Linked DNA regions of Homo sapiens. The protein of the gene in region 2 purifies or fractionates together with the protein of the main gene of each other region. This does not show direct contact. Each region holds a gene or a part of one and is shown on either strand. Other genes may lie near its edges. The genes, in order: FBP1, CSGALNACT1, SPINK5, FAM234B, ARFGEF1, PKP1 and DSC2.

Evidence for each region.
Region 1: the proteins of CSGALNACT1 (region 2) and FBP1 purify together in Homo sapiens (affinity purification with mass spectrometry; one large-scale study listed by BioGRID and IntAct). This does not show direct contact.
Region 3: the proteins of CSGALNACT1 (region 2) and SPINK5 purify together in Homo sapiens (affinity purification with mass spectrometry; one large-scale study listed by BioGRID and IntAct). This does not show direct contact.
Region 4: the proteins of CSGALNACT1 (region 2) and FAM234B purify together in Homo sapiens (affinity purification with mass spectrometry; 2 studies listed by BioGRID and IntAct, with this or other methods). This does not show direct contact.
Region 5: the proteins of CSGALNACT1 (region 2) and ARFGEF1 purify together in Homo sapiens (affinity purification with mass spectrometry; 3 studies listed by BioGRID and IntAct, with this or other methods). This does not show direct contact.
Region 6: the proteins of CSGALNACT1 (region 2) and PKP1 purify together in Homo sapiens (affinity purification with mass spectrometry; one large-scale study listed by BioGRID and IntAct). This does not show direct contact.
Region 7: the proteins of CSGALNACT1 (region 2) and DSC2 purify together in Homo sapiens (affinity purification with mass spectrometry; one large-scale study listed by BioGRID and IntAct). This does not show direct contact.

The regions. Positions count from the first base shown.
Region 1 is NC_000009.12:94,615,519-94,619,018, forward strand, and holds part of FBP1 (fructose-1,6-bisphosphatase 1), read right to left. Parts: intron 2,343-3,500; coding exon 2,250-2,342; intron 1-2,249. UniProt on the Homo sapiens protein: Catalyzes the hydrolysis of fructose 1,6-bisphosphate to fructose 6-phosphate in the presence of divalent cations, acting as a rate-limiting enzyme in gluconeogenesis. Plays a role in regulating glucose sensing and insulin secretion of pancreatic beta-cells.
Region 2 is NC_000008.11:19,421,778-19,425,277, forward strand, and holds part of CSGALNACT1 (chondroitin sulfate N-acetylgalactosaminyltransferase 1), read right to left. Parts: intron 1-3,500. UniProt on the Homo sapiens protein: Transfers 1,4-N-acetylgalactosamine (GalNAc) from UDP-GalNAc to the non-reducing end of glucuronic acid (GlcUA). Required for addition of the first GalNAc to the core tetrasaccharide linker and for elongation of chondroitin chains.
Region 3 is NC_000005.10:148,066,980-148,070,479, forward strand, and holds part of SPINK5 (serine protease inhibitor Kazal-type 5 isoform b preproprotein), read left to right. Parts: intron 1-3,343; coding exon 3,344-3,471; intron 3,472-3,500. UniProt on the Homo sapiens protein: Serine protease inhibitor, probably important for the anti-inflammatory and/or antimicrobial protection of mucous epithelia.
Region 4 is NC_000012.12:13,075,381-13,078,880, reverse strand, and holds part of FAM234B (protein FAM234B), read right to left. Parts: intron 2,856-3,500; coding exon 2,738-2,855; intron 1-2,737.
Region 5 is NC_000008.11:67,263,782-67,267,281, forward strand, and holds part of ARFGEF1 (brefeldin A-inhibited guanine nucleotide-exchange protein 1), read right to left. Parts: intron 3,450-3,500; coding exon 3,310-3,449; intron 3,204-3,309; coding exon 3,095-3,203; intron 2,427-3,094; coding exon 2,225-2,426; intron 1-2,224. UniProt on the Homo sapiens protein: Promotes guanine-nucleotide exchange on ARF1 and ARF3. Promotes the activation of ARF1/ARF3 through replacement of GDP with GTP. Involved in vesicular trafficking.
Region 6 is NC_000001.11:201,286,506-201,290,005, forward strand, and holds part of PKP1 (plakophilin-1), read left to right. Parts: intron 1-3,500. UniProt on the Homo sapiens protein: A component of desmosome cell-cell junctions which are required for positive regulation of cellular adhesion.
Region 7 is NC_000018.10:31,061,381-31,064,421, forward strand, and holds part of DSC2 (desmocollin-2 isoform Dsc2a preproprotein), read right to left. Parts: 3' UTR 1-3,041. UniProt on the Homo sapiens protein: A component of desmosome cell-cell junctions which are required for positive regulation of cellular adhesion.

The DNA.
Region 1 (3,500 bases), on a different chromosome or scaffold from region 2:
TTGATATTTTGCAAGGAAAATTGCATTCTTCCATGTCTACAACAGAAATGGTATGTTCCTTGGCATGACTTGGAAAATGGATAAATTGTTGCCTTTTTGCCTTTCTAGTATGAGAATTTGAATCTTCTATTCCTCAAACTGATTGTGATGTGGATCTGCCTCTTACCCAAGATAAAAAGCAAAATACGTTCCAATGACCAAAGATAACTGTGCCATGGGGGCTCTACTTTTCACATATTTGAAAGGAAATTATGTATAATACTAGACAATAAGTCACTTTTAGAGATAAAGTGCAAATTTGGGTCTCAGTTCTTTTTTTTTTTTTTTGAGACGGAGTCTAGCTCTGTCACCCGGACTGGAGTCCAGTAGCGCGATCTTGGCTCACTGCAACCTCCACCTCCCAGGTTCATGCCATTCTCCTGCCTCAGCCTCCTGAGTACCTGGGACTACAGGCGCCCGCCACCATGCCCAGTTAATTTTTTGTAATTTTTAGTAGAGACGGGGTTTCACCGTGTTAGCCAGGATGGTCTCAATCTCCTGACCTCATGATCCGCCCACCTCGGCCTCCCAAAGTGCTGGGATTACAGGCGTGAGCCATCTCGCTAGGCCAAGGGTCTCAGTTCTTAAGTTAATGCCTTTGTGTCCTAGAACAGAGTTCAGCTGAACCAACCTCTTCAGTCGATTCCAGCCTGTGAGGTTTCAGTTCTGAAATAAACAAGAGCTGAATATAGAATGGTATGGTAGACTTTGGAGACTTAGAAGGGGGTGATGGGAGGGGATGAGGGATAAAAAAACTGCATATTGGATACAATATATACTATTCTCGTGAGGTATAAACTAAAATCTCAGACTTCACCACTATACAATTCATTCATGTCACCAAAAACTATTTGTACCCCCCAAAGCTGTTAAAACTATATATATATATACTTTTTTTTTTGAGACGGAGTCTTGTTCTGTTGCCCAGGCTGGAGTGCAGTGGTGTGATCTCGGCTCACTGCAACCTCCACCTCCCAGGTTCAAGCGATTCTCCTGCCTCAGCCTCCCGGGACTACAGGCGCCCACCACCATGCCTGGCTGTTTTTTTGTATTTTTAGTAGAGACGGGGTTTCACAGTGTTAGCCAAGGCAGTCTCAATCTCCTGACCTTGTGATCCACCCACCTCGGCCTCCCAAAGTGCTGGGATTACAGGCGTGAGCCACCGCATCCGGCCTAAAATATATACTTTGAAAAAATAAAACAAAACAAGAGCTAAAGCTAAGAGGATGTACCTTGGATTTTATCATGTTTCCTGATGGGTGGATGGGTTTTCATTCTATTTTTCACTTATTCGTATAATTGAGCACCTCTCCCTCTCCCTCTCCTCCCTCTCCTCCTCCTCCTCCCTCTCCTCTCTCTCCTCTCTCTCTCTCTCTTTCTCTCTCTCTCTCTCTCTCAGAAAAAGCAGCTCTGGAGGAGGGGTGACTGCCCGAGTCAGGTGTTAGGAGACCCGAGCAGGGCTGGATTCTCATCCTATGCTGTGTGCTTTCTACGACTTAGAGCAAAGCTCAGTAAACTGTTTCTACAGACAGACAGATAGTAAATTTTTCAGTTTTATGGGCCATACAGTCTCTATCATAACTACAAAACTTTGACAGTGCAGCAGAGAATCAGCCAAAGGCAGTATGTGAAAAAATGAATGTGACCAAATGCCAATTAAAGCTTCATTCGTGAAGAGTAAAACTTAAAATGGATCACGAAACTTTGTTCTTTAGTTTTTTTCAACTATTTAAAAATGTAAAAATGGTTATTCTTTGTTCACAGGCTGTACACATTAGGCCACAGGCTGGACTCAGCCCGGGGCTCATAGCTTATAGACCATTGACTAGGGGACTTAAAGGACAGTTTTGACATAGTCTCTATTGTTGTCTTACACTCTCAACTCTGAGTTCACATCGTATCATCACTATACTTACCCTCTACTGCCTCTTTTTTAAATCTCATTTTCTATCATAAAAAGTAAGACATAGTAAAAAGAGTGAAATATCCTTCTCTTCCCACCCATATTTTACCCTATATTCTCTTTCAACAATCTAGTGGGTCTTCGTCATGCAATTAGTGCTGAAAAGCTCAGAACTTGAGATACAAATCTACTTCAGTCTCACAGTTTCATGATCTCCACTCCGGCTGCTCTGCCACAGTGAAATAGGACTGGATGCTCAATCTTAACTTCTGTCCCCAAACCAAGTGCTTAAGATATCACGTTTTACCTTTCTATAGATGCCAAAAATGGTTCCAACGGACACAAGGCAATCGATGTTGGAAGATCCATCAAGGGGATCAAAACAGACCACATATTTACCCTGAGCACAGAAAAAAGAAATACAACCTTAAAATGTTATAGCAAGATACACTAAAGGAGTATACATTAGGGGCTAAGAATGGGAATTTAGAAGAAAGTTCAAAAAATGTGGGTCTTATTTATTTGTACTGTCATGGAAGGCATGAGATGGCATACAGAATGCACAGATACACACACATACACACAAGACCATTAAACAGAGAAAATACCACTTAAGAGGTGCAGATGAAGGTAATGGAATACAGATAAGTCATGATTTCCTATATTGTTGATATAATCAAATCATAATTTTGCATTGAGTTTCCTGGCAGCCAAAGGAAAAAGAAGGTTAGTCACTCATTTTCCTTTATTTGTAAGGAAAAAAATAATTCCTTAGGTGAAGCAGAGACTTTGCTAGGGTTGAGATCTATAAGAAACTTCTCATGGAGGTCTTACAGATGCCCCTTGAGGTTGGGGTGCATAGAGTTTTCAAAAATATCCTGGCTGGGCACGGTGGCTCATGCCTAATCCTAGCACTTTGGGAGGCTAAGACAGGAGGATTGCTTGAGCCCAGGAGTTTGAGACCAGCCTGGGCAGCATAGAGAGACTCCTTCTGTAAAAAAAAAAAAAAAAAAAAAAAAAAAAAAAAAAATTCAATTAGCTGGGCATGATGCTGCACATCTGTAGTCCCAGCTACTCAGGAGGCTGAGACAGGAGGTATCACTTGAGCCAGGAGTTCGAGGCTGCAGTGAGCCATGACTGTGCACTCCAGTCTGGGTGACAGAATGAGGCCCTGTCTCTAAAAACAAAACTAAACAAAACAAATTTCTAGCGTAATTCCCAAAGTAGATAACTTTCAGTGGTAGTGGGAATACCGCAGATTCCTGTTTTGAGTGGGATTTTCAGTGGTGTGCAGGAGCTGGCTGGTATCGGCTCTCAGGAGCTAACGGTGCACATCTCTTCCCAACTCTGCCTTCAGTGATATCACATTGGTAGCTTAAAATCAACGATGGGAGAGTATTCACACCATTGACAGAGGCAAGTGGACATATCAGAGACTTGTTTGTTTGCTTTGAGACCCAGTTTACCAGCACATCACTGGGAGTTTTCCATCTCCAAATTAGCCACTTTACAATGTCGTTTTTAAATGTCTGTAGCAGATTAACATGATTCCCTGCCC
Region 2 (3,500 bases):
CTTCTTTTGGATCTGGGAGTGAGCTTGGATTCTTATCTTAGGGATCAGTGAGCCCATGTCAGAGTTTGATGCCAAACATGCCTTTCAGATTTGGATCAGGTTAGGAGGCCTCATGATGGGTAGAGCACTGGTCTAGGAGTCTGGAAACCTGGATCCAGGACTAGAACTGTGCCTGGGGCCCCATAAGTGTTCAACAGATGTTTCTGAATGAGTGTATGAATGTATGAATCATTCTAAACCTAGCTGTGCCTCTGATGGATTTGAGGCAAGTCACTCTACCCCTTTTGTCTCTGTTTCCAGGTACAAAATCCAGTGGTTACAGAGCTCAAATTCCCCTTTACACACTAAGACGCTATTTTTCTTTGGTTAAAAAAACTTACTTTACATATGTACATTATATATACTTGTATATAATACACTTTTTCTTTTAGAGACAGGGTCTTGCTCTGTCACCCAGGCTGGAGTGCAGTGGCATGATCATAGCTCACTACAGCCTCAAACTCCTGGGCTCAAGCAATCCTCTTCTCTCAGCCAAGTCCCAAGTAGCTGGGACTACAAGTGCATGCTACCATGCCCAGCTAATTCTTAAAAATTTTTTATAGAGACAGAGTCTCACTTTGTTGCCCAACTCTTGGCTTCATGCGGTACTACTGCCTCGGCCTCCCAAAGTGCTAGGATTACAGGCATGAGATACCACACCTGGACAAGACTCTATTTTTCCTATGATCCTGCATTCACTTCAGCACCACTCTACATTTGCAGGGATTCTCTTCCTCTTTCAGAACTTTATCTTGAGTCTTTTCTCTGGGGGGGTGCCCCCATTGCACATTTTCTGTGTGTTGCATTGAAGTTATGCTCAAAACCTTTTCAGTATTAGGTATGGCACCAGTCAAGGACACGCTATCCTCCCGTCTCCAAAGACATTCAGATGGTGTGAGGTCACTGCGAGCACCTTCATGTCTCTTAGAGGTGTCTGCAGCCCCAGCTCCTGTAAGTCAGGTCAACCCATTTTTCCCTTCCCGGTTTGGTCAGTTTCCAGGAAAGGTTTACCCATGGGAGATGCCTGGATTTTTACCTGTTCATCTAAAGGCACCTGATCCTGGAGTCCATCTTGCTTTAACTTTCTATGTATTTAATATATACAGCCAGTAGCAATTCTCTTTCTTCGCTGTTTCCAGGTTCCTATCTTTTGGGACCTCTTCCTCCCCATTATACAGGGATATCTTCTAACTTTCAGAGCACAAACACAATGTATGAGCAAGTCCTTCCTCACTCAGGTTGCACCTGACTCATAATTCAGGTACCTTCTCCAGGAGGGTTTCTAGGATCTACTACAGGAGAGTTCAACTACAAAAATACCTGAACAACAGCAAGTGACTTTTGCCAAGGGAAGAAGAACATAGGCTCTTAATAGGCTGCATTAAATGAGCTGCGACATCAAGAATCTCCCCCTTGAACAGCCTACAGTCCATTTGTATAGATAGGCCAAATATTTACAAAAGTTAAATCATGTTGAGTAATTAAATAAGAATACAAGACAGTGTTAGAAACTGAGGAAACAGCATGAAAGAAATGACGAGTCTACAAGTGATTGATTAACTGCTGAGTGAACGGTAGAGACAGTGCTACAAATTTAGAGGGAAGAGTGGTAATTTGGTGGTGTGCATGCTTACCTAATGCACAAGTTAATCTAGTTTATTCTGTGCATGAATCCCCTAACCCTGGCTTGAGCTGTTGCTAATAAATGCTGTTCTCTCCTCTGCTGCAACAGAGGATTGGGTACAGGATGGGCTTCCTGTCATAGTCATGGGAAAAGGGGTGGGAAGAACTTAAGGTACCTAGTGTCTGACATGACCTTAATTTGGAAGAACTTTTTTTTTAAGCCTTAAAATGTAAATCCCTATGCTTCCATGATGTGTTGCTTCTAGAGAAAGAAAATTCAGGCAAATGGATGCTGGGGAACACTTTATATGGCCTAATGCAAAAGGCAATTTGCTTCCTTTCTCTTCATGCAACCTTTCTACAAGGAAAAGACAATGCATGTTATATCCATGGCACTACCCAATCTGAATATGCATTTTGAATTCACTTCATGTGTCCACAGGCTGCACAGAAAGCCCTGGGAAGTGGTACCCAGCTCTGTCCACGCACTGTTTCCATGTGGACCATATGGGGGCCGGCGCACACACACACAGCACCAGACACCTCGGCTTGCCTGTTCTCCCTGCCCCACGCAGGACTCTGCCCTGATCTAGCTTTGCCTGGGACTTTCATCCACCCTGATCAACACTGGCCAGAAGGCAACATTGCTGGCTTGGCAGTATGGGTCCATGTTAGAGCTGCTCTGAAGCCCTGACCACTCACCAGGTCCTGATGAGAGAGCTGAACATGAGTGTGCACAGAAGGCAGGGTGGGGACAGAGTCACTGCTGGCTTGGGAAGCACCATCAGGCAGTCACAGACACTGGAGAAGGCCCAGAGTGCTAACTCTGTCATCCATCTGTGTTTCCCAGGGTGGCTGCCAGGTCATTATGCTCAGCTAGGGGTCCGTCTGAGGATGAATAATGGTACAATTTTCCTTCCTGATTCCTCAACCCAAGGCTTTTTTCCAATAAACCAGTGATCTGAAAGAACCCCTCCAACTCCTCTCTTGCCATCAGGAAGAGCCTCTGATAATTACCAAGACCCTCTGCCAAAAAAGAGGACTGAACTGGAAAAACCATGAAAAAAAATCAAGACAACTTCCTGTCTTTGCCAAACCTCCTGGGCCTAGAAGTGGGGCAGCCTCCTCATCTGAAACTTACCAGTACTGGCCATGTGGGCTCTAGAACAGGATATGACAAGATGAGGAGGAATTGGCTTCTTCAAGTAGTCAGGCCACTTATCAATGCCCCATATCCTCATTTTGAAGCAGTGCTCATTGGGCAGGGACTCCATCACTAGACTAGAGTGCCCCCTGCTCAACAGTGGATTGAAAGGCAGCAGAACCATTCAAACACAATGACACACTTCAACTCAAATCACTGATGTGCCCAACGTAGTGTGATGGTGTGGTTTGGGAAGGTCCGCACCATGGCCATGAGGCTGCAGCCCCCAAATGCAGACTGTAGTGGTTGCCAGGCAGGCATGCTGCTTTATTCTCTGTCCTGCTTCCCCCCTTCCAAGTAACCAGCCAGGAGCAGATGATTCCGATTGTGAAAGAAAAATAGAATCTCAGGACCCCAAACTCACCATGCCAAAAGGAGAATTAAGCTTGAGAACTGAGTCACCAAGACTGTTCTCCTGACCAGGTGCAGTGGCTCATGCTTGTAATTCTAGCACTTTGGGAGGCCGAGACAGGCAGATCACTTGAGGTCAGGAGTTCGAGACTGAACTGACCAACATGGTGAAACCCCATTTCTATTAAAAATACAGAATTAGCCAGGCGTGGTGGTGGCGCCTGTAGTCCTCACTACTTGGGAGGCTGAGGCAGGAGAATCGCTTGAATCTGGGAAATGGAGG
Region 3 (3,500 bases), on a different chromosome or scaffold from region 2:
TTTTACGATGCTGTGATTTTGGTTATTTTCCAAGTTTAGTAGCTTGGGTTCCTTTCAGCATGATAAAAGCATGTTAAATGTCATAAACATGAACCTAAACAGCAGGGAAAAGCACTGCAGCAATCTGCAAGGATCTTAAGCATGCTTAAATTTGTCATCACCTAAGAGTCATTCTTCAGGCAAAAGCAAGCTGGTCAGTGCTCTAACACTGAGATAGGGCAATGGCAGCTCCTGGAGGGTTTTATTATAATATCTGGAGATGGACAATAGAAGACAACAAATTAGGCCTCAGCCAGTGAGGGAAACAGGAAGAACTTGGCCCTAGAGGGCTCCAGTTTTCCTGGGACATGCTGAGAAAAAGAGAATAACAGCAACAGTAACAAAACAAAACAAAAACAGGCCAGGGACTGGAAGTTACCCTGCAAGTAAACAGGTGCTGAAAAGTCATCTACTCAACTCAGGATGACTTTTGGTCTAAATATGCTTCTGTTTCAACCCTCTCTATTATGGTCATTGAAAGGGTATTCCATTTTGCTCAGAGAAAAACTCAACTGCTGCTTTCCATTTTTATGGTCTTTTCCTGTTTCCCAAGAGAATACATTGGATAATTTCATAACTCAGAAAAATAGCATTGAATCTCATCTTAACTAATTAATCACTGTGAACAAATTTCTTAACCTATTATTTGGGCCTCTGATGCTCAGTTTGTAAGAAAGGGAGTCTTTCTAGGAATTAAGTTCTCATCTAACAGTGATATTGGAGAAGTCCAATTTAGGGATTATTCTTATTGATGCAACTCTTTAATTTTTCTTATAAGTAGAGACAAGGTCTCATTATATTTCCCAGGAGGATCTTGAACTTCTGGCTTCAAGCAATCCTCCTCCCTTTGCATCCAAAATTGCTGAGTTACAGCCATGAGCCACTGCACCTGGCCTGATGCTACTCTTTTATGATAAGCTTTCAAAATTATTTAGAGCTTTATTCCAGGATTATCATGAGTCGTCTATATACTTTCTATAAGACTTACTTAATAAGGGATATATTTTCATTACAAAGACCCCAGGCTCTTCTCTGATTCTACTATATGGATTTTAGGATCAATTATATTCATCAAGGTAAGCATAACTTGCAAAGTTGGCATTTGATACTGTAGAATCAGAGATCAGACAGGTCTCAAGATGCCCAGTTATTAATCTGTGTCCAGAAATTACTACTCTGCTACTCTGATGGAGTCACTGTGTAGCTATAATAATCTTAGAGATATTTAAGCATGCCATCCTTAGCTAAATTTCCCAGGGCTGGTCTGTGATATCGTTTAGTTATTCTCCTTCACCATTAATCATTTTGCAAGTGCTACCAACTGCCTACCATTTTTAAGAGGCTAGATTAAGTACATCATTATTCATCCAGGCAAGTATACTTCTGTTCTACCTAATGCTGTATCTATGTCACCTAGCAAAGTATAGTAATCCAATAATAAGTGATTGCTGGCTCATTCAATGATGATCATAAAGATATAGGAGACTACTGGAGTTCAAGACCAGCCTGGGCGATGTAGTGAGACCCTGCCTCTCCAAAAAAAAAAAAAAAAAAAAAAAAAAAGAAAGAAAGAAAGAAAGAAAAAACAAGCACAAAACACCAGATATAGATATAGGAGCCTAAATAGAAACCTTTAATAAATTTTTTGGAACAGGTTGTGTTTGTCAGAGTTGAAGCAAAAGCTTTGTTTATTTGTTTCCTGATACAAGCAACTTGAAGCAGATTAAAAAAAATCAAAACAAAAAACAACAAAAATCCCCTTAGATTCCAAAGGCCTATTCTAAAGACCTAGTGAATTTTCACTGGGTACAGTGGCTCATGCTTGTAATTCCAGCACTTTGGGAGGCTGAGGCAGGTGTATCATTTGAGGTCAGGAGTTCGAGATCAGCCTGCCCAACATGGTGAAATCCCATCTCTGCTAAAAATACAAAAATTACCTAGATGTGGTAGCATGCACCTGTAATCCCAGCTACTCAGGGGGCTCAGGCAGGACAACCTCTTGAACCTGGGAGGTAGAGGTTGCAGTGAGCCAAGATCATGCCACTGCACTCCAGCCTGGGCGATAGAGCAAGACTCCATCTAAAGATAAATAAATACCTAGTGAATTTTCTAAATTAAAAGGGAATATAACATTTTAAAATCATACTTTACTAGGTAGCAGAAATGCACCATATTTTAAGCTCCTAAAAAAGAATGAGTGATGTATAGCAGGACTTTAATAATAATATTTAATATTATTTATTAATATTTAATATTGAATGAATCAAAGAATTACCACTTTTGAAGATCATTCTACTTTCCTTTTCCCCACCAATTCTATTATTTAAAATGTTTCCCCTGTCCTCCTTAAACTTTGTATAACGGAGTTATTGGTATTTACAAAACCAAAAGCCCAAAACAAACATAGTAGGATTTTAGTTCCAAGGGATGTGCCAAAAAAAAAATTACCAGAGAGAGAGAGAAAGAGAGAGAAAGAGAGAGAAAGCCTTATGCAATTATTGAGAAATTTCCTCAGTACTTCCATAGATTCACAAGGTTTGATTCTGATGGTAGTGATAGTAGTGCTGATGACATTTGTGGGGATGGTGGTGGGGGTGGAAGTATGGGTACTTTCTAAAAAATATAATACAAATTTGAAAATGCAAAATGGTTAGGCCTCTCCCAGAACCTCGGAAGGGGGATGTGACAGTGAAGGGCCCTGAATCTTAAGCTTTATTAGCTTTAAGGTAAGTCTGCCTGTGCTCATAAGTCAAATGATTTATCAAGGGACATGAAGTTCTTTTCAGAAAATAAACCAGTCTAGAAACTTGTTTTCCAGATAAATATAACCAAGAAATCCTTTTTTCATTTAACACTGTTAAAATTTCTAGGAACTGATATGTTGCAGTACAGCCATGGGGAAATGTAGGCAGACATTTTATAATGTTCAATGCTCAAACACCTTGCCTCAGTCCTTCAGCAACATTTTCATATTCCTTTCACAGCAATTACTATTGGCCTACTGTGTACTAGGTATTTTATATGTGTCATCTTAGCATATTCCAGTAATAATACTGACAATCACCAGCAACATCAAAACAATAATAATAAAAAAGGAGGAAGAAGGAAGGAGGATAATTTATTAATTGAATATCTACTATGTATCAGGCATTCTTTGAGGGCTTTACATACTTAATCTTCAAAAAACCTTGGAATTGTGTGTGTATATATATGCAGACATATACATATATCTACATATATATATCAAAATAAAGCTTGTTTTGATGTACTTTTAGCTAACACAACTTTTTTGGCATTATCTTAGGAAATGTGCCATGAATTTCAGGCATTTATGAAAAATGGAAAACTGTTCTGTCCCCAGGATAAGAAATTTTTTCAAAGTCTTGATGGAATAATGTTCATCAATAAATGTGCCACGTGCAAAATGATACTGTGAGTAAAGGTTTCTTTCTTTCTTTCCA
Region 4 (3,500 bases), on a different chromosome or scaffold from region 2:
TCCTTGAGCAGTGGTTTGTAGTTCTCCTTGAAGAGGTCCTTCATGTCCCTTGTAAGTTGGATTCCTAGGTCTTTTATTCTCTTTGAAGCAATTGTGAATGGGAGTTCACTCATGATATGGCTCTCTGTTTGTCTGTTATTGGTGTATAAGAATGCCTGTGATTTTTGTACATTGATTTTGTATCCTGAGACTTTGCTGAAGTTGCTTATCAGCTTAAGGAGATTTTGGGCTGAGACAATGGGGTTTTCTAGATATGCAATCATGTCATCTGCAAACATGGACAATTTGACTTCCTCTTTTCCTAATTGAATACCCTTTATTTCCTTCTCTTGCCTAACTGCCCTAGCCAGAACTTCCAACACTATGTTGAATAGGAGTGGTGAGAGAGGGCATCCCTGTCTTATGCCAGTTTTCAAAGGGAATGCTTCCAGTTTTTGCCCATTCAGTAGGATATTGGCTGTGGACTTAAACGTTAGACCTAAAACCATAAAAACCCTAGAAAGAAACCTAGGCATTACCATTCAGGACATAGGCATGGGCAAGGACTTCATGTCTAAAACACCAAAAGCAATGGCAACAAAAGACAAAATTGACAAACGGGATCTAATTAAACTAAAGAGCTTCTGCACAGCAAAAGAAACTACCATCAGAGTGAACAGGCAACCTACAAAATGGGAGAAAATTTTCGCAACCTACTCATCTGACAAAGGGCTAATATCCAGAATCTACAGTGAACTCCAACAAATTTACAAGAAAAAAACAAACAACCCCATCAACAAGTGGGCGAAGGACATGAACAGACACTTCTCAAAAGAAGACATTTATGCAGCCAAAAAACACATGAAAAAATGCTCACCATCACTGGCCATCAGAGAAATGCAAATCAAAACCACAATGAGATACCATCTCACACCAGTTAGAATGGCAATCATTAAAAAGTCAGGAAACAACAGGTGCTGGAGAGGATGTGGAGAAATAGGAATACTTTTACACTGTTGGGACTGTAAACTAGTTCAACCATTGTGGAAGTCAGTGTGGCGATTCCTCAGGGATCTAGAACTAGAAATACCATTTGACCCAGCCATCCCATTACTGGGTATATACCCAAAAGACTATAAATCATGCTGCCATAAAGACACATGCACACGTATATTTATTGCGGCACTATTCACAATAGCAAAGACTTGGAACCAACCCAAATGTCCAACAATGATAGACTGGATTAAGAAAATGTGGCACATATACACCATGGAATACTATGCAGCCATAAAAAATGATGAGTTCATGTCCTTTGTAGGGACATGGATGAAATTAGAAATCATCATTCTCAGTAAACTATCGCAAGGACAAAAAACCAAACACCGCATGTTCTCACTCATAGGTGGGAATAGAACAATGAGAACACATGGACACAAGAAGGGGAACATCACACTCTGGGGACTGTTGTGGGGTGGGGGGGAGGGGGGAGGGATAGCATTAGGAGATATACCTAATGCTAGATGACGAGTTAATGGGTGCAGCACACCAGCATGGCACATGTATACATATGTAACTAACCTGCACATTGTGCACATGTACCCTAAACCTTAAAGTATAATAATAATAAAATTTAAAAAATGAATAAATAAAATAAAATACAAGTTGTAATAAAAATGGTGTCAAGATTCTTAATTACCATTATTTGATGTTCACTGAATATTTTATGCTACTGTTGAAAAAACAGCTCACTCAGATCTAATCACAGGATTTTCCAAGCTCATACCTCCCTGCCCCCACCCCCCAATCAGTGGACAGGTGTGCCTGCAAGTTCCAGGTAAGCTGTTCTTCCCCGTGTATCCCAATAAATCGAGAGAGCTACAAACACCAGCTGCAGCCCAAGGCCAATGAGTTTGTAAGTAGACAGCCAAGTCCATAAGTAGCAAGAGAATGTGGAAAGAAAGAAAGGAGATGTGGTCATCTGGTCCTCTCCCACTCCTGCACTCCCTGACCTCCCAACAGGAACAGCAGATTCCATGAGGGAAGGAATCGCTGAGGAGATCACCAGACAACCTAGACTAGCAGGCAGCAGAGGCTGCAATCCCAATGCTTTGGTTTCCTGAGTTGAGGGTCTCCCATATAGGATCCCATTTTATTTACAGTGTTATTTAGACAGATATGTAAAGTAGAAGAACACTTCCAAAATGCTAATAGTGGTTATGAGTGGCCAGATTATGGCCAATTTTTCTTTCTTCCTTTGATTTTTCTTCTTTCTCCAATTTCTATGCAGGGTGCACAGTTATATTCAAAAAAAGGTTTTCTAAATCAATGCCCTGGCAAAACACATTCTATCTCCATCATGTCCTTCACAGTTAATTCCAAATCCTAATCTCTGAGTGGGTCAAGAAACTAGTCTTATTTGTAGTCCCAGCACCTGGCACAGTGTCTGGCATACAGATGATGCTCATTAAATGTCTGCTGAAGGAGTGGCTGGATGAATCATCACCTTACAGACCCTTTGGAATGGGACGCGCTTTCACCTCCACATTCAGAGCATATGGGTTCTCACCCTGTGAGCCCGGGGCTTCCACCCAGGGGAGCATTCCAGCAAAGAGGCACCAGGGACACCAGGGAAAGTGCCCTGCTGTCGTCTGAGAAGCACACATCCTTCCCTGGGTGGGGCAATGGTCTCATTACACACAGCCAACACATACTCTCCCACCATCTGCGTACACAGACTCCCGCTGGCACTGGGACTCACCCTCTGAAGCCGTCACTGTGCCGGTGGTGTTGGCCAGATCCAGAAGGATGGAGGGGAACGCAGGATGCAGGAGGTAAAGGTGGTGAAGGCTGGGCGGCTCAGTTCCTAGGATGATATCCTGATAATAAGCAGCAAAAAGGAAGAGCAAAGGTAACGCTACATTCCCACACGTGACAGTCCTCAGGTGAAAAGGCAGAGTAGAAAATGGTGATTACTCATTCCTCTCAGATGCTAATGCCTGATCCTAACTACAAGAATGTGTTTGAAAGAAACTCCCCTGTATAAGAGACATATTTCAAAGAGCTCAAAATAGTAATCACTAACTCTTTCAAACCACTATCTACAGCTGGAAAATGCTTTCTCCCTTGTAAGAAAAAAAAGGAAGGCAGGCCTGGTGCGGTGGCTCATGCCTGTAATCCCAGCACTTTAGGAGGCCGAGGTGGGCAGATGACCTGAGGTCAGGAGTTCGAGACCAGCCTGGCCAACATGGAGAAACCCTGTCCCTACCGAAAATACAAAAAAAAAAAAAAAAAGAGAAAAAAAAGCTGGGCTTGGTGGTATGCCTGTAGCCCCAGCTACTCAGGAGGCTGAGGCAGGAGAATCACTTGAACCTGGGAGGCACAGGTTGCAGTGAGCCAAGATCATGCCACTGCACTCCAGCCTGGGTGACAGAGAGAGACTCTGTCTCAAAAAATAAAAAAAAAAAAAAAGAAAAGAAAAGAAAAGGCAATGTACAGGTCCCAAGAGAGGAATCTGACAAGAT
Region 5 (3,500 bases), about 48 Mb from region 2:
AATACTAAAACTGTGACAAATAGATGTATTCACAAGGTAAGAAAATAACACAGTAGAAGTAACTAACTTAGATGGTCATAATATATTTCCTGGGAAAGGTGACTCTGGAACTATTTTGAAGAACAATTATATCTTTTATAAACAATAAGAAAAAACATGCAAGAGAGGAAGAAGCCATACTAAAACACAAAAGCACAAGACAGTATTATATAATAAATAGTTCTGCATTGTTGGAAAGTGAGGTGAGACAGAAAAGTGGCAGGAAATGAAGCTTAGAGTCCAGCAGATCCAAATCATGAAGGTATTATCATACCTTCAAAGCAGCTTTGGTTTTATTCTCTAAGAGAGGGAAAAAATAGACTTTCATTCAAGAAAGGTTACTCTAGTTAAGCATGGGAAAAGACTGAAGAATGAACAAAACCAAAGAAAAAGGTAAGCCAATTGAAAGATTATACTAGTTGAGGAAATAAATAATCATGATTTGATTTGCAAGAATAGTGGTGGGAGATCGAGAAAAGAGTACAGATTGCAGGGATATTAGGAAGTATAATCAACAAGTCTTAGTGACAGATTAGATTCGAGAATCTAATCCTTTGAGGGGAAAATCTAAGCTAACTCCCAGGATTTTAGCTTATAAATTTAGTAGCATGCTGGGGTTACTACCATAAATAAGAAATACAAAAATAACAGGCTTCTCTATTTGTCTTTTGTTTTGGGTAGGAGAACTAAGGGGCTGATGTTGGAAAAGGGCTGAGGAACAGAACGCTGGCAATGCTAAGATGCACGCAGGAAGAAAGAAAAAACAGCCCACAAGACTGAGACGGCATAGTCAAAAAGGTAGGAGAGAAACAGGATAGACTGGTGTCATGAAACAGTTGTAGACAAGTATACTAGGAATACAGTTCCATGAAAGCATTCTCATCAATGGCTGTATTAAGTAGAAAGCAAGTCTAGCTGCTGAGAGAAGGACTGGGAGACTTCCACTTCGAAGCCCTCTGACTACTCCTTCTCATTTCTCAAGTACTTCAAAATAAGTACCTTGGCAGTACTTACTCTGTACGACACTCTTTTATAAACATTTACACAGTACTATTTTTAAAAATTGCTCATGTTTAGAATGCAATCTTGAATACAAGGACCAATGCCTTCATGGTGCTTGGCAATAGTCCCAAGTACCAAATATGTGTTTACTGGGTGACCAGCAGAATTTCAATATGCATATTTGTTTACACACACTAGACCAAGAGCCTCTCAGAAGGAAGGGCTTTTCCATGTATCTAGTTTCCCCAGGATCTTGCATAATATCTGGAAAGATGAGACTTTAATAAATATTGACTGAACAATTAGAATTAATGCAGTAGTGACAGCTATTTCCTGAGGCAATTTGGTAAGATTTTGTAATTTTAAAATAGAATATGTGTACATTTTTGTTGAACTGTTTTTCATATTAACACTGGAGAAAAAAGACACCTGAACATTCACTAAAAGGCACTGCTTAAGTATCAGGAAGAAATGCTTTACAGAAGTAGCAAACCAAGTAAGCACACAGGGGAATTTTTAAGTTTATAATAGTTAGATTCATGGAGACGGCAAACAATTTCATTTTTCCTTATGGCATCTCTTTGAAAAAAAGAGATGGGCAACAAGAGAAAGGAAGGCAGCATGGTGACATTCACAAAGGAAATAGTCCAGGAGCAGGCAGGTATCACAAAGCTTAGTGGGAAAACTGACTTCACAAGATTAGGATCCGGTACACTAGCCAGGCTGGAAGAGAGGTGATCACCTCATCAACATATAAAAATGAAATCAATAACAAGAATAGTACATTTGTAAGCCAGCTGGAAAAAATGTAAGACCTATAAAGGAGTACTGATAGCTATTAGAAGTTTCATATTTTAAATGTTTTGAGTTGTCACATGATTAGAAAATATAATGGGGGGATGTCATGAGCTAAACAGTGCAAAATTGCACAGATGATACCCATCAACAGCACTTATAATATGGTGACAAATTAATTTATATGACAAGAGTGGTTGGGCATTACAGGAATCTAGTTGGGCTAGACTGCAATGAACAAGGGGGGCTGAATAGGAGCCTCGTGAATTAGATCCATGAGAACTATCCTCCATTTTACTCATTATAAGGTGATAAACCCACGGCAGGGGTGGCACTATACTGGCAGAGAGATATTCAATAACATTTCTCCTTAAGCTATGACACTTACAAATCTATCCCTTGTTCTATTATTTCTTTTTGTTGCTTTAGGACCTCAAATTGTTCTGGATTATCAGTGCCAGACATCTGTGTACTGTAGCTGCCTATTCCTGATGATGATGTTGACTCCAGGGAATTTAAACTTCCGTATCTGTTTATTGTCTCAGGGTGTTTGATTTCACTCATCTCTTGCTCTGAGGGTTTTTCCTGACCTGAAAGAAGAAAAATTGATAGAGTACATTATTCTATCAAAGAAAAAAAAAAGTGTAAGGGCAAACAAATTCTTGAATAAGGCAAGGCGTTTCAATGTTGCTTAGATATCTATTTAATACAAAATAACTATTAGGTAACATAGTAAACAACATACTTTGATATTAAAACACACTGTAATTTGTACGTGTATAGTCTGCACCATTAGGAGGAGTTCTTTTTGCAGTTGCAGTGCTGAGTATCCACTGGATTTCTGCTCTCAGCTCACTCCTCATGAGGAATTGTTTTCGATAATACCAGTGTAGCCCTGCAGCTATGAGTTTTTCTCTGAGTGAGGGTAAACATCAAACACAGATGAACAATTCAACCTTCTTAAAACATACTGCCTTTTATATGTTTCCTCTATAATTATAATACAAGAAAGTTGCATAAATATGCTTCATTTTACATAATCAAAATATTTCTAAGAAGATTTAGAAAAAAATAGTTTGGATAACTAAGTTAAAAATCTCACAATTTTAAAGCTAGACATTTAACTCACAGAGAATGTTTCCTCATCAGTTAAATGAATAAATATGTCATGAAATTGGTTTAACAGCAGCTGCAACTATCCTCCAAAGTATTATTCACTTAAAATGACAAAGAATTACAGCTCAAAATATCACCTTACCAAGAGTTGTCTGGGAGTTGGGATTCACATACTGATCCTTACTCCATTCAACCATACACTTCAAAATCGACACTAAGCATTCTAAACCTTTTTTCCTCAGGCTCAATTCCTACAAAGTAATTCAAAAACAAAATTTTTTTTAAAGGTCTTTTAAGGAAAACACATGACTCTTTCCTGGTAAAGTTTAAATTTGAAAATGTTTTTATAGTTCTTACCTGAACATTACTCATACCAAGTTCTTGACTGCCCCTTCCTTGAGCAATTTTTGATAGATCATTTACTAGTCTTTCAAATATATTGGCTGCATTTAAGTCACAGTCATAGTTTACATAAATATCCACTACACTCTGAGCATCTGTAACAATATAACATTAATTTCAACAAAGTACATCTAGGATATGAGTAC
Region 6 (3,500 bases), on a different chromosome or scaffold from region 2:
GAGCCACTGAGGACTGGAGGAAGGGCCCCTGGAGCCTGTCACAAAATGCCTGTCTGCACTCATGCTCTCCCTGAAATGCCACAGATCAGACAAGCACCTTGCCCTGGTCATGAAGGCCCCGGGCAGGAAGAAGGTGGCTTCTGTGGCCTGGAGACCTTGCAGAAGGAGGTTGCTCTGAACCTGCCTACCCATCTTGAACTGCCCCTGAAGTATTGCTCCCCTGTGTTTTCAGGCTGTCCCTGTGTGCCTCAGGGTGTCTGGCCTCCTTTTCTTCCCAGACTGTGTGGAAGGCAAGGGGAAACTGAGGGGGATGTCACCACCCAGCAAAAGATCTTTGCCAGGGAAATGACCTCCCTGAGGATGGGGAAGGAAACACTTATCCACCTTCCAGATCTTTATAACTTCACTTGGAATCTCTTCCTAAAGCTGAACCTGAATCTCACTTGCCCTAACCCAAGCGCTCCCCCGCCACTGTGAATACAGATCACACCCAGCTCAGTGAAAGGAGCTTCCTTTCACCTGTCCTGTCTCCTTCCAGGGAAGTCCTAACAACACCAGCACCATTGCCTGCTTTGTCTCACTGCCTGCTTAGCCATCTGTGATTTTTTATTTCAGCCTTTGGCCTGAAATTCTCTTTCTCCCTTCTTCATAGAAGTACTGTTTCCCATCTAAAATTGCTAAGCCTCTATTTCTCTCTGATCAGAGGTAGGGGCTGGAGGCAACATTGAGCCAGGGGAGGTGCCTGCTCCCTTTCTGTAGTTCCTGTGTCTATTCAGCCCTCATCAGGGGAGAGGGGGGCATGCTTGTACGAACTCCGCAGCCTGCACAGTGAAGGAGCTCGCCTCAGGAGCCCCCACTTTGATGGCTTTTTGTATTTGTGTTTGACTATGTCTCAGCATGAGCTTCTGCCCGAGTGTTCTGCTCATTAGAGTTTCTAGAAAGTTGTCCTTTCCTGACCACAGGCATCACTTCTGGGGTTGTTTTCTTGGGACCGAAGCTGAGATTGCAGATGGTAATGGCTATGTGTGCTTTAGCTTGTTCCATTGGCGAAACATACCAATTAAACTTCAAATGAACCAATTCTTGTTTCTTTACAATGTACCTTGGCTTGAAGTTGGAGTTTTAGCCAGAATTTCCGTTGGCCTGTTACAACACATGCAAAAATGCTGGGTATTCTAGGGTGTTTTGCAGCAAATGCTGCTTCTCTGGATCCTGCTCCTTGACAGAGATTTTTTAAAAGTACAAATTCCTCCCCCGACCCCATACCATTGTAAGTATCATTGTGCCAATTGTTCTAGGTTTAGAAATCTGGGAAGCGCTTCTGCGATGGGCCGTGACCCTTACAAGATGTGTAATGTTTGAACAAAATAAAATGGACGAATGTTAGATATCTTCATGTGAAGTTCCTTCTAGGCATACGCTGGACACATGCGCACACATGTATACACACATAGGTCACACATGCATATATGCATGTATACACAATACACCCCACACATGAATCCACACACCCACACATGCACACACGTACACACACATAACATGCACACACTTATGTTATGTGTGTGTACATGTGTGTCCTTGCAGCTGTGCTGTGTCAGGAGCCCAGCCTGGCATCTACCTGGTGTGCGATCTTGGACAAGTCGCTGCCTCTCTTTGGGTCTCTGCAGCTGTCAGAGGTTGGATTAGATCATCTCCAAAGTGCTTTGCAATGGGAACACTCTTTGGAAATAGATTTTATAACTCTCTAGCTCTGCAAACCATTTGCCCAGACCGCCAGCAGCTGTTCTGCCAAAAAGCTCTTCCCCTTAAGGCATGCCACTCATCGTGTCTCTCTCGTAAACATCCTAACATATTAAAAAGTCTTCTCATCCACTCTTCTCAAACTTGGCTACATATTGGAATCACCTGGAAATTTCAAACAACACAAATGCGTGAGTCCCACCCCCAGAGATTCTGACTTAGTGAGTATGAAAGATGGCACGGGCATCAGGACTTCAGAAACTCCCAGGTGATTCTCATGTGTAGCCAAGTTGGAGAACCACTGTTCTAGTCCCTGTCCTTCACTCACACAGATCCAGCATGGGGGAGCACCCCTATACAATGACATACACCCATGTCTTTCTCTCATACACACACACACACGCACACTTAATGTAGTAGTTGCTGGCGAGAGCCTTTGACTCTGAACCCCACCTGAACCCGTCAACCCTTGCCCACTCTAACCCACCACCCTGCCCCCTCACGCCCATCCTGTCCCCACAGGATGCTCCCATGCTCTGCCCAGTCCTCAGGCTTGGTGGTGGCCATGAACAGATCTGCTGAAAGAGCAGCAGGATTGTGGCAGAGCTAGGTCTGAACGCGTCCCAGCAGAGCCTGAGGGAGTCACATGGGCTGGAGAGGGAGAAGAGAGAACACAGGCCACAGCAACCCAGTTTGTTTCAGCATTTCTGTTCAGTACGTACACCCAGGAAAAGGTCAAGAGCCACACCAAAGTGCCCGGTGAGGCTGTGCTGAACTCCTTGCCCTCCCCATCTCCTAGAAGCTGCCGAGTTGGGGAGGCATGTCCACGGTGCTCCCAGCAGCCCAGCAGAGGGGGCAGGAGGCTGGCCAGCCCAGTCCTCCCTCCAGGAGCTGGAACCATCCCGCAGACACAGTCCACTCCTGCCCACTCCGAAACACCTCTGAGGGTATTCTCTCAGCAGTAGCTTCCTGGCAGTTCTTGTTATCTCATTTAAATTCCTATTGCTGTGGGCCTAGCTTTTCTGGGCACCATGGGTGAAAGAGATTTCAGAGGGTGAAGTAAAGGCATTTTCAAGACTAAAAGAAAATGAGCTTCCTTTCTCAAGCTTTTCATGCTGAAGGACAGGTGGGCTTTATTCAAAAGTAGAATATGCTAGAAGAAGCATCGGCCTTAAGGGAGACAGAGTAAGCAAGAATGTGTTCCGAGCAGCTTGCCCTGTGACGAAGGAGAAGGATTTGAGGGGAGGGAAAGTGGAAAAAGCGGATTTCCCTATGACCTCTGTCTGCAGGAAGGCTGATGTCCTGAGAGCCTTCTCTATGTAGAACCTGGGCCTGGGATTGGGGGTGTGGAGTGTGGATCTACCAAAGGTGAAGATTCCTTGCTTCAGGGAGCTCCCAGCTTGGTTGGGGAGACCCAGGCCCTACCTTCTGGGAGGAGTGCACACACACACACACACACACACACACACACACACACAGTGTACAGAAGCCACATTCCAAGGAGCCCACAAGCCAGTGCAGAGTCAGCCGCTGGATTGAGTGCTGACATGGTTATGCTGGCAAGTTTGGAGTGCTCAGAGCTGGGTGCGGTCATCTTTAGGAGAAGCTGATTTTTGTGCAAGGTTTTGAATGCAGGGGGAGGGTTGGAGAAGAAGAGAAAGAATGTTTCAGGTGCAGTAAGTGTGACCTATTTGAAAGCTTGGAGGTGGAAGAGGATGAGTCATCCCTGCAAAGGCTCACCTGCCCCTACTGGAGAG
Region 7 (3,041 bases), on a different chromosome or scaffold from region 2:
AGAGAGAATGAAACAAAACAGCCCTTGCCATTTCCCATGCACCAACTATCACTCCATACGGAGGCACATCAGTGAGTATCTCTTCTTTAATCTCACGTATACCTAGAATTTAGGATATACCAAATGGCTTGAGAAGAATATGCTCCAAATCCATGACACAGTAAAATTCCTCTATAAAACAAGATTTAGGGTGTGTTCTTTTAAATTAAAGTGCTCTGTTTACCTGACTAGCTATTTCAAAGCTCTAGCTTCTTTTTGTTGCCTGTTTTTTAGCATTATGCTCTTTTGTTTTACCTTAAGACTCTATATTGCATGTCTTATTTGAAATATCTAAAGTTTAAAATGCAGCCTCATAATGTATCTATTTGCTTAATTTAAAACATTTAAGCAAAAGTAATAGGTTCTGCTTCTTAGCTATTGATGGGATAAAGAACACAAGGACAGGTGGGGAGAGAAGAGCTTCTTGGAAGAAAGATCAGATCCTACTTCTCAAGATTTCAGTCCTCAAACCTAGAAAACCAGAACTGGTGAAGAGGAAATAATAAAGGGGGTCATACAACTGATCCCCTCTCCCCAGAAAGCAAAACACATAGGTCTGTCCTACATGTCCTACGTGAGAAGAGCAGGGCTGGGAACTACCTCTTACGTGTTATCTTCCAAGTGACATTATCAGTTCACAGCACAATATAGGCATTGCCTCTGAGGCTCATTGCTATGCATTTCTTTCCCTATTCTCTACTTCTTGTGTGAAGATTTTCTTCTCTCAGGGCACACATGAGCACGGTGGTTTCCTGTTACAGAATGTTCTCCCAGCCTAACATGGAAAAAGCTCGTAGATGTATGCCACTTTCTTTGCTTTGTGGTTTCTCAAGATATTTTTTGAAGCAAGGCCTGACTTACAACATTTTATAAATAACTAATGGGAATTTTGGCAAACTCATAAGAATCATTTCTTGAATTTCTAAACATAAGTGGTTTTTAGTTGCTTTTCCTCAGGTGGTTAGAGAGTGGCCTTTTGGTTAAAAAAAAAAAATTCACTGCAGTGTTTGAACCTGGCAATGATGAAGTGACAGTCGCAAACATAATTTTCACATTGGCTAAAAATTTTCAAGTTGAGAAAAAGAATTCTTTAGGCAATATGCAGTCTGATCTTAGCCAGGTACCTAACACACATGTGCATTTATTCATTCATCCATTTATTCATCACACACCAAATATATTCAGTGTCTACTGCTCTACATGTTAGGCATACAGTGGTCAAGAAGACAGAGGAGAACCCTTGGGGGTTACATTTCAATATGGGGCAATTATTGGTGGCTACAAGTAGGTTCGTGCAATTATTGGTGGTAGGATTTGAGCTGGCCTGAACCACAATATTCAGACACTACCCCTTCTGTCTGCCCCTCTCACTATCCCAAGGGAGAAGGGATTCCAAAATCTCAACACTTCACTTTCCTGTATTAAGCTGTGAATGCAAACAATTGTTCTAGTCATTCAATGTCTTCTGAGGAAAAACAATTCAGTGCAGAATCTAACATACACCATGTCTATCATGTAAAATTTATGCCACAGAAAATTAGTATGTGCTGAGAATAAAAAACCTAACTTTTATTATTTCTCTTTTTTCCTTTATGACCTGGGCAATATAATTTGATGAATCAAAATTTGGCCAGGCACAGTGGCTTATGCCTGTAATCCCAGCACTTTGGGAGGCCAAGTGCTGACAGATCACTTGAGGTCAGGAGTTCAAGACCAGCCTGGCCAACATGGTGAAACCCTTTCTCTGCTAAAAATACAAAAATTAACCAGGCGTGGTGGTAGGTGCCTGTAATCCCAGCTACTCAGGAGGCTGAGGCAGAAGAATTGCTTGAACCTGGGAGGCAGAGGTTGCAGTGAGCCATGATCATGCCACTGCACTCCAGCCTAGGTGACAGAGTGAGATTCCGTCTCAAAAAAAAAAAAAAAAAAATTAATGGCCAGAGTTGTATAGGCATGCAATTGTGAACACCTTTCTTGGTCCTTAGTGTCCTACATGAAAGAAAAGAAACACACACACAAACCTGTAGATGAAAACTTTACAGCCATGTGCTCTAGACACACAAATGTCTAGGCGGTAGTATTTTTACTAGATCCTCAAAAAGTAATATTTTTACAAAGAAAGAGACAATGAGTAAAGACATTGTAAAAAGAGAACTAATCATGAGCAAGGCACAAATTGAAAAATGAAGGATACAAGGAGATTGGGGAAATTAGTACAGAAGGTCCTCAACTTAAGATGGCTCGATCTGATATTTCAACTTTATGATGGTGTCAAAGAAATATGCATTCAGCATTCTCCTACACTTATGAGACTACATCCCAATAAGCTTATTTTAAGTTGAACATATGGTAAATGGAAAATGCTGTTTTGATTTGTAATATTTTCAATTTACCATGGGTTTATCAGGATGTAACCCCATCATAAGTCAAGAAGCATCTGTATTTAAAAGTGATTTTGTGTTTAGAATTTATCCTCTAAAACCCTATAGAAAGCTCTTAGGCAGAATGGCATGATCATATCTGCTCTTTGATGGCCCTTGAAAAAAGAGAAGAGGGAAGAAATTGGAAGCATAAACACCATTGGAGCTGAGTGATGCTGAAGATTTAATCTGGGGTACTGGCGGGGGGGAATATTGATCAGGAATGAAGTGAAGAGTGGGAACAGCTGACATAGGGTACACCTCAACCTCATGAATGCTTGGATTGGGAGTAGCAGAAGCAGAAGTTCACTCACTAGTGTCCTGAAGTTCTTTCACATCATCTGAAGCTTTTTAAAAACATGCATTATGCACTTACTATGTGCCAGGCATTGTGTGATGTGTTTTACAGGCATTAGCCCACTCCTTACATCCACCGTGTCTTGACTTGCATTCAAGTGTGTGGGTGGGGAGAGTGGCTGATTCATCTTGCACTTTCTCATAGAAGCACAGTCCTTCTAGTCTCTGTTTTAAAAGGCTACATATGACTGCACTGGGAAGGCATCAAATGACTACAGTACAAAC